2 linked regions of the Homo sapiens genome follow. The protein of the gene in region 2 purifies or fractionates together with the protein of the main gene of each other region. This does not show direct contact. Each region holds a gene or a part of one and is shown on either strand. Other genes may lie near its edges.

Evidence for each region. The genes of interacting proteins can lie anywhere in the genome.
Region 1: the proteins of TMED5 (region 2) and LONP2 purify together in Homo sapiens (co-immunoprecipitation; one large-scale study listed by IntAct). This does not show direct contact.

What each region holds. Positions count from the first base shown.
Region 1 is NC_000016.10:48,247,210-48,250,867, forward strand, and holds part of LONP2 (lon protease homolog 2, peroxisomal), read left to right. Parts: intron 1-104; exon of another isoform or gene 105-330; intron 331-3,658. UniProt on the Homo sapiens protein: ATP-dependent serine protease that mediates the selective degradation of misfolded and unassembled polypeptides in the peroxisomal matrix.
Region 2 is NC_000001.11:93,173,907-93,177,564, reverse strand, and holds part of TMED5 (transmembrane emp24 domain-containing protein 5 isoform 1 precursor), read left to right. Parts: intron 1-3,658. UniProt on the Homo sapiens protein: Potential role in vesicular protein trafficking, mainly in the early secretory pathway. Required for the maintenance of the Golgi apparatus; involved in protein exchange between Golgi stacks during assembly.

The DNA of each region.
Region 1 (3,658 bases), on a different chromosome or scaffold from region 2:
CTCTACTTAAAAAAAAAAAAAAAAAAAGGCTTTAACAATACCAATACTGAGTAATCCATAGCATTAGCCTGTTTCCACGCACAAGTCTGTCCTTCCCCAGTTACCTGCTTTTCTGTATGGTAGCCCAGAGGCCAGAAGAGGGGCTCTGTTCCTTTCTCTTGTTTCCTTTGCGCTATCCAGGTGACGCTGGCACAGCCTTCAAAGAGCAGCAGAAGTAATTTGCTCCCAGCGTTCTTTGCCACACAGAGTGGCAGGATTAGATGTTGACTTACCTCTGCCACTTCCTTGGTGGTTTTGAGTAGTACAGTCCCTTTCTGCACGTTAGTGTGCAGGCATGTTGCCTGCAGGAGCCTTTTTAAAGGAGGAGCTTTGGACTTGTCCTGCAGTATAGAACTTGGCTGGCATGCTGACCCAGGGCACCCTGCATTTTTCTGCTTAGTAGAACTGCATTTTTAGTGCTTCCTGAGTGACCCATTGTTTTCTTAGTGAAAAGGGGTCATAATTTAGTACTACCTGTACAATATCCTTTCAAGCATTTCAAGATGGTCATCCAGCTTTCTTCCAAATTTACACTTTTCAGGGTACATGGCTTCATTTCCTCATAGTGCCGACTTCTCAGTCTCCCTCACCAGGCTGGTGTCAAACTTGTGAGCTCAAGTGATCCTCCTGCCTCTGTCTCCCAAAGTGTTAGGATTACAGGCGTGAGCCACCATGCCTGGCCTATGTTTATAATTCTTGTAGGTAGAAGTGGTACCTATTGTCCATTGTAATGAGAAAAAAGTAAAATTTGTCTTAAAATATAATTAAGGAACTCAATTTATTAAATTTAAATTTATCCTTTAAATTTTAAATTTAAATTTATTTCTTAAATTTATTTCTATTACATTTTCTTGTAACCATGTACACCTAAGTTGTTCTACTTTAATTTTTTTGAGACAGGGTCTCACTCTGTCACCCATGCTGGTGCAGTGGTGCCATCTCAGCTCACTGCAACCTTTGCCTCCCAGGTTCAAGTGATCCTCTCACCTCAGCCTCCTGAGTGTCTGGGATTACAGGCATGTGCCACAATGCCTAGCTATTTTTTTTTTTTTTTTTTGGTGGAGACGGGGTTTTGCCATGTTGCGCAAACTGGTTTCGAACTCCTGAGCCCAAGTGATCCACTTGCCTCGGCCTCCCAAAGTGCTGGGATTATAGGTGTGAGCCACCATGCCATGTTCTACCTTTTTGAATCTCATTTACTCACTTGTAATAAGGAAATAATACTACCTTCTTCATGGGGTGAAGGGAGGTATAAAATGAAGTATACATATGAAAGCCTTTTGAAACTGCAAAGCATTCTAAACCTATATCCAAATGGGTAGTTTTAAATGTAGATTTTCACAAAAGGGGATTAAAGAGAGGAGTGGGGAGGCCCCATATTATTCCAACACGGGCTGAACTGAACTAACATCATTGCAGGAAGGTCTTGGAAGATTAAAGATTCCAAGAAAAATTAAGGGCTTTGAGTAAAAAAATTTTTTAAAAGTGGCTGGGCCTGGTGGCACGTGCCTGTACTCCCATCTACTCATGATGCTGAGGCGGAGGATTACTTGAGCCCAGGTGATCGAAGCTGCAGTGAGCTATAATCGTACCACTGCACTCCAGCCTGGGTGACAGAGCAAGATTCTGTCTATAGGAAAAAAAAAAAAAAAAAAAGCAAGTGCTGGGCATATAGGCTGGAATTAGATATTTACATAATATCCTCATCTTGGAAAACTTTTTCCAGTAGTGCTGCTTTTAGATTTTCCCACTACTGCAGTTGATGGTTCTTAAATATGTTTGGAACTCTTATATTATTTAGGTCAGTTTCCAAATTACACAAATTGTAACCATTGTAGTCAGACCTCACTTGAATGAAAACAATATTTTACAAACTCTGAGGGTAGATTCGAGTTAGGATTTGGATTAAAACATTATCTTAAAACCTCTGAGGGTAGATTCGAGTTAGGAGTTTCAAAACTTCTTTGAACAATATCATAATTAGGATGTAGATTTACAGAGCTACTAGCTAAAGGGAAGGACACCAGTCATTGGGATGTATAAGTTTGGATCTGTTGCAAAATTAAAATGCTGCCTTTTGAGCATGCCTAATAATGCACATACAATAGAAGAGCCAGAATTTTTAGAAAAATGACTGACTTGATATACAACCTTTTGTATATCATAGAAGGAAAATATTAGTTGAGTATTTTGTTTATTTACCTGTTTGTATATATAAAACCTGGGGCCCAATATACAATAGATTCTTTTTCACTATGCTTTTCACCCACAGTGTCTCACCAGGTACTCTGTTTCTAGCCATCTATAATTTCATAGATGTTTTTCTTTAAAAGGGATGTATTCTAGGCTGGGCGAGGTGGGTCTTGCCTGTAATCCTAGCACTTTGGGAGGCCAAGATGGGAGGATTGCTTGAGGCCAGTAGTTGGAGATCAGCCTGGTCAACATCATGAGATCCCATCTCTGTTAAAAAAAGAAAAAAAAATTTTTTTAAAGGGATAATTTCTAGTCAACTATAAGTGATTTTAAGTAAAAAGCAATTAAGGCATGTATACATCTGTACCTTTTGTAGGCATAGTATAAATTCAGCTTAATCTCTTCAGTTTGGAACATCTTCCTTTCACAGCAAAAATATTGTATTTGCTTTATAAGAAAACCCCTTTTGGCCAGGTGTGGTGGCTCACGCCCGTAATCCTAGCACTTTGGGAGGCTGAGGTGGGTGGATTACCTTAGGTCAGGAGTTCGAGACCAGCCTGGCCAACATAGTGAAACCCTGTCTCTACTAAAAATACAAAAATTAGCTGGGCGTGGTGGTGTGTGCCTGTAATCCCAGCTAGTTGGGAGGCTGAGGCACGAGAATCCCTTGAACCCAGGAGGCAGAGTGCAATAAGCCGAGATCACGCCATTGTACGTCAGGCTGGGCGACAGGGTGAGACTCCCTCTAAAAAACAAACAAAAAAACCACAGTGGCTCACACCTGTAATCCCAGCACTTTGGGAGGCCAAGGTGGGCGAATCATGAGGTCAAGAGATCGAGATCATCCTGGCCAACATGGTGAAACCTCATCTCTACAAAAAATACAAAAAATTAGCTGGGCGTGGTGGTGTGTGCCTGTAGTCCCAGCTACTTGGGAGGCTGAGGCAGGAGAATCACTTGAATCTGGGAGACGGAGGTTGCAGTGAGCCAAGATTAGGCTACTGCGCTCCAGCCTGGTGACAAAGTGAGACTCCGTCTCAAAAAAAAAAAACAAAAAACAAAAAACAACTCTTTAGCATCACCTTTTAGCAATGACATAGCCCAAATAATTAAATTTGTCTCCTGATCGGAGATTTGGATTTGTCTCATCTCTCTTTCTGGTTCCTCCTTGGTTTCTACTTTGTAAACCCTTTAGGCCGGGGATCCAGTTTCTTGTCTGTGGATGTTTTATATACAAACAGGACTGTGAGCTCTTTCAGCATTGTACAAACAGTGATGAATATCATCTGCAATTAATTATGTTTAAGTTATTCTCTAATCAGTTTAGAGGTGGCTCACTTCCTCAGGCAATCTGAGTGGGCTTTCAGGAAGTGGGAAATATTATCTACTATTGATTGAAGAAAAGCAGCCACAACACAAATAAGTC
Region 2 (3,658 bases):
CACTCTGTTACCCAGGCTGGAGTGCAGTGGCGCGACCTTGGCCCACAGCAACCTTCATCTCCCGAGTTCAAGTGATTCTCCCGCCTCAGCTTCCCGAGTAGCTGGATTACAGGCATGTGCCACCACACCCAGCTAATTTTTGTATTTTTAGTAGAGACGGGGTTTCACTATGTTGGCCAGACTGGTCCCAAACTCCTGATCTCAAGTGATCTGCCAGCCTCAGCCTCCAAAGTGCTGGGATTATAGGTGTGAGCCACCGCGCCCGGCTGGGACTATTCCTTTAAAACATTCTCCCTAAACAATTTGTTTTGATTAAGGAAAGAGGTAAAATCATTTGTCTGTAATCCTAGACAGTGTTGGTGAGATGTGTAGGGTAACTATCATCTTCCACCCTGTTTGTATTTCCCAACTTGTTTAATTTCCCAGTAACTACATCCTACTAATTTTTGTCTTAAAGTTAGTTTTTAAAATTTTATAGAACAATCTAGTTTTGTCCTTGGTTACTTATTGAAAATTTTACTAATTTCTTACTTTTTAGGTTTTAGGAGAATACTTTTTGGATAATTGACTAGCCTCACATTATATTGATAGAGGTTCTTGAAAACTTTAATGCCAATTCATGTATCTTATGACTAAAATAGATAATCCATTTAGAAATTTAAGTCATTCTTGCGTGCTTGATATGTGTCAGCACTATCCAAGTTGCTAGGGATACAATGGTGAGTGAAAATATCAGCTAGGTGCAGTGGCTCACACCTGTAATCCCAACAGTTTGGGAGGCCAAGGTGGGAGGATCACTCAAGCACAGGCGTTTCACACCAGCCTGGACAACATAGCAAGACCCCATCTCTACCAAAAATAAAGTTAGCCAGGCATGGTAGCACACACTTGTGGTTCCAGCTACTTGGGAGGCTGAGGTGGGAGGATCACTTGAGCCCAGGAGGTTGAGGCTATGGTGAGCTGTGATCACACCACTGTACTCCAGCCTCGGTGACAAGAGCGAGACCCTGCCTCAAAAAAATATATATATATATGTTTGTGTGTGTGTGTGTGTGTATAGTCTGTGCCCTCATACAATCAAGTATTAATTAATCAAATTATTACACAAATACATGTCAAAATATTTACTAGGGGTAATGAAGGTAAGTTCATAAGACTATGAGTGGGCTCAGTAGGAGGACTTCATTTTATCTGGAAATTGAAAGACATCCAGAAGTAGAGTTAAGATCTACAGAATTATCAGACTTTCACTAGGCATAATGGAATGAGTGGTACGAGACAATGGGTAAAAAAGAACAACAACGTGCCAAGATACTAAGGAAGAAGAGAGAAAGATACCTTTGAGGTCCTGAAAGATAGGATACAGAGAGAGAAAAGTGGTACAAGTCTACTTTAGAGAAGTCAGTAGCAACAGCAACCAAATCATTGTGGGCTTTTAGGTCCTTGTTAAGGATATGGGTCTTTTGCAGAGACCAGTAATACGCCACTGAATAGTTATAAGCAGGTTAACTCGATCTGTGTTTTTTAAAAGATCGTTTTGGCCACAAGGTATTGAGCCTCTCTGTACCAGTTTCTATACTTTAACAGTAATCACCTGCTCCCCACTATATATTATTGTGAAGAATAAATATGCTAATACATGTAAAAGGAATGGTATCTAGCACCAAATAAGCACTCAAAAAATGTTAGCTAGAAAATAAACCCTGAGCCTAGAACAACAATACTTTTTTAAGGGCATAATAGGCACTAAAAAGTATCTATTGAATGAGTGAACCAGACGTTTACCAAACATGTAAAACTATCTGGGTGAGTTTTTGGGAGAATATAGCTATATCAATTTTTAAAAATTTTTATTAGTCTTTCATTTTTGTATAGAGCCAAATTTCAATATTTTCTGGTAAACTGGCCATTTCATCTAATTTTTAAAATTTACTTGTATAATATACCTGATGCCATTTGGAATATCTCCTATTTCCATTTTATCTACAGGTATACATGCCTAATATTACATGTATAAAGTAGATAGGACTACTTTATTGATCTTTGGGAAAAAATGTCTTTTGAGTATTTATTATTTTTTGTTTTATATACATACACACACATATCTATTATATATACACACATTTTATACATATACAAAATATATAATATATTCATATACATATAAATGTATATGTATATATAAATATGTATATAAAAAAACAAAAACTCAAAAGCCATATATGTGTGTGTGTGTGTGTGTGTGTGTATATATATATATATATAGGCATAAGGGAGTAAGTGGAACAAGACAATGGATTAGAAGGCACAACATGTGCCAAGATACTAAGGAAGAAGAGTGAAAGATACCTTTGAGGTCCATTTATATATATATATATATATATATATAAATGGCTTTTAAGTATTATATAAATATATATATATAAATGGCTGGGTTTTGGGGAGAATAATATATTTAATAATTTAATATATATATTTGGGTTTTATGTGAGTCTGTGTGTGTGTATATATACTTTTTTTTTTTTTTTAAGAGATAGGGTCTCCAGCAATCCCATTACTGGGTACACACCCAGAGGAATATAAATCATTCTACCATAAAGACACATGCATGCGAATGTTCAGTGCAACACTATTCACAATAGCAAAGACATGGAATCAACTAAATGCCCAGCAATGACAGTTTGGATAAAGAAAATGTGGTACATATACACCATGAAATACTATGCAGCCATAAAAAAGAATGAGATCATGTCTTTTGTGGGAATATGGGTTGAGCTGGAGGCTATTATCCTTAGCAAACTAACACAGAAACAGAAAACTAAATACCACGTGTTCTCACTTAGAAGTGAGAGCTAAATGGTAAGAACTTATGAACACAAAGACGGAAACAACAGACACTGGGATTTACTTGAGGAGGGAGGGTGGAAGGACAGAGAGGCACAGAAAAGTTAACTATTGGGTACTGGGCTTTATATCTGGGTGATGAAATACTAAGTTGGTGCAAAAATAATTGTGGTTTTTAACACGTTTACCTATGTAACCTTCACATGTATCCCCAAGCCTAAAATAAAAGTTAAAAAAAAGAGAGATATGGGGTCTCACTATGTTGCCTAGGCTGAATTTGAATTTGGGCACAAGTGATACTCCCACTTCAACCAGCCTCCTGGGTAGCTGGGACTACAGGCACATGCCACCACACCTGTCTCCTTTATGAATTTTTTTACTTCCAATTATAAAAGTAATATACAACCTCCTTAGAGTAAGTCAAACAATACAAAGATGTAAAAGCAAAAAAAGCTGGGTGCGGTGGCTCACACCTGTAATCCCAGCATTTTGGGAGGCCAAAGTGGGTGGATCACGAGGTCAGGAGTTGGAGACCAGCCTGACCAACATGGTGAAACACCATCTCTTAAAAAAAAAGAAAAAACAAAAAACAAAAATTAGCTGGGCGCAGTGGTGCGCGCCTGTAGTCCCAGCTACTCGGGAGGCTGAGGCAGGAGAATCACTTGAACCCGGAAAGCAGAGATTGCAGTGAGCCGAGATCGTGCTGCTGCACTCCAGCCTGGGTGACAGAGTGAGACTCCATCTCAAAAAAAAAACAAAAAAAAACCTCTTTGTAACTCTATTGAATGCCTGTTGTCATTCTCCTAGATGTGAA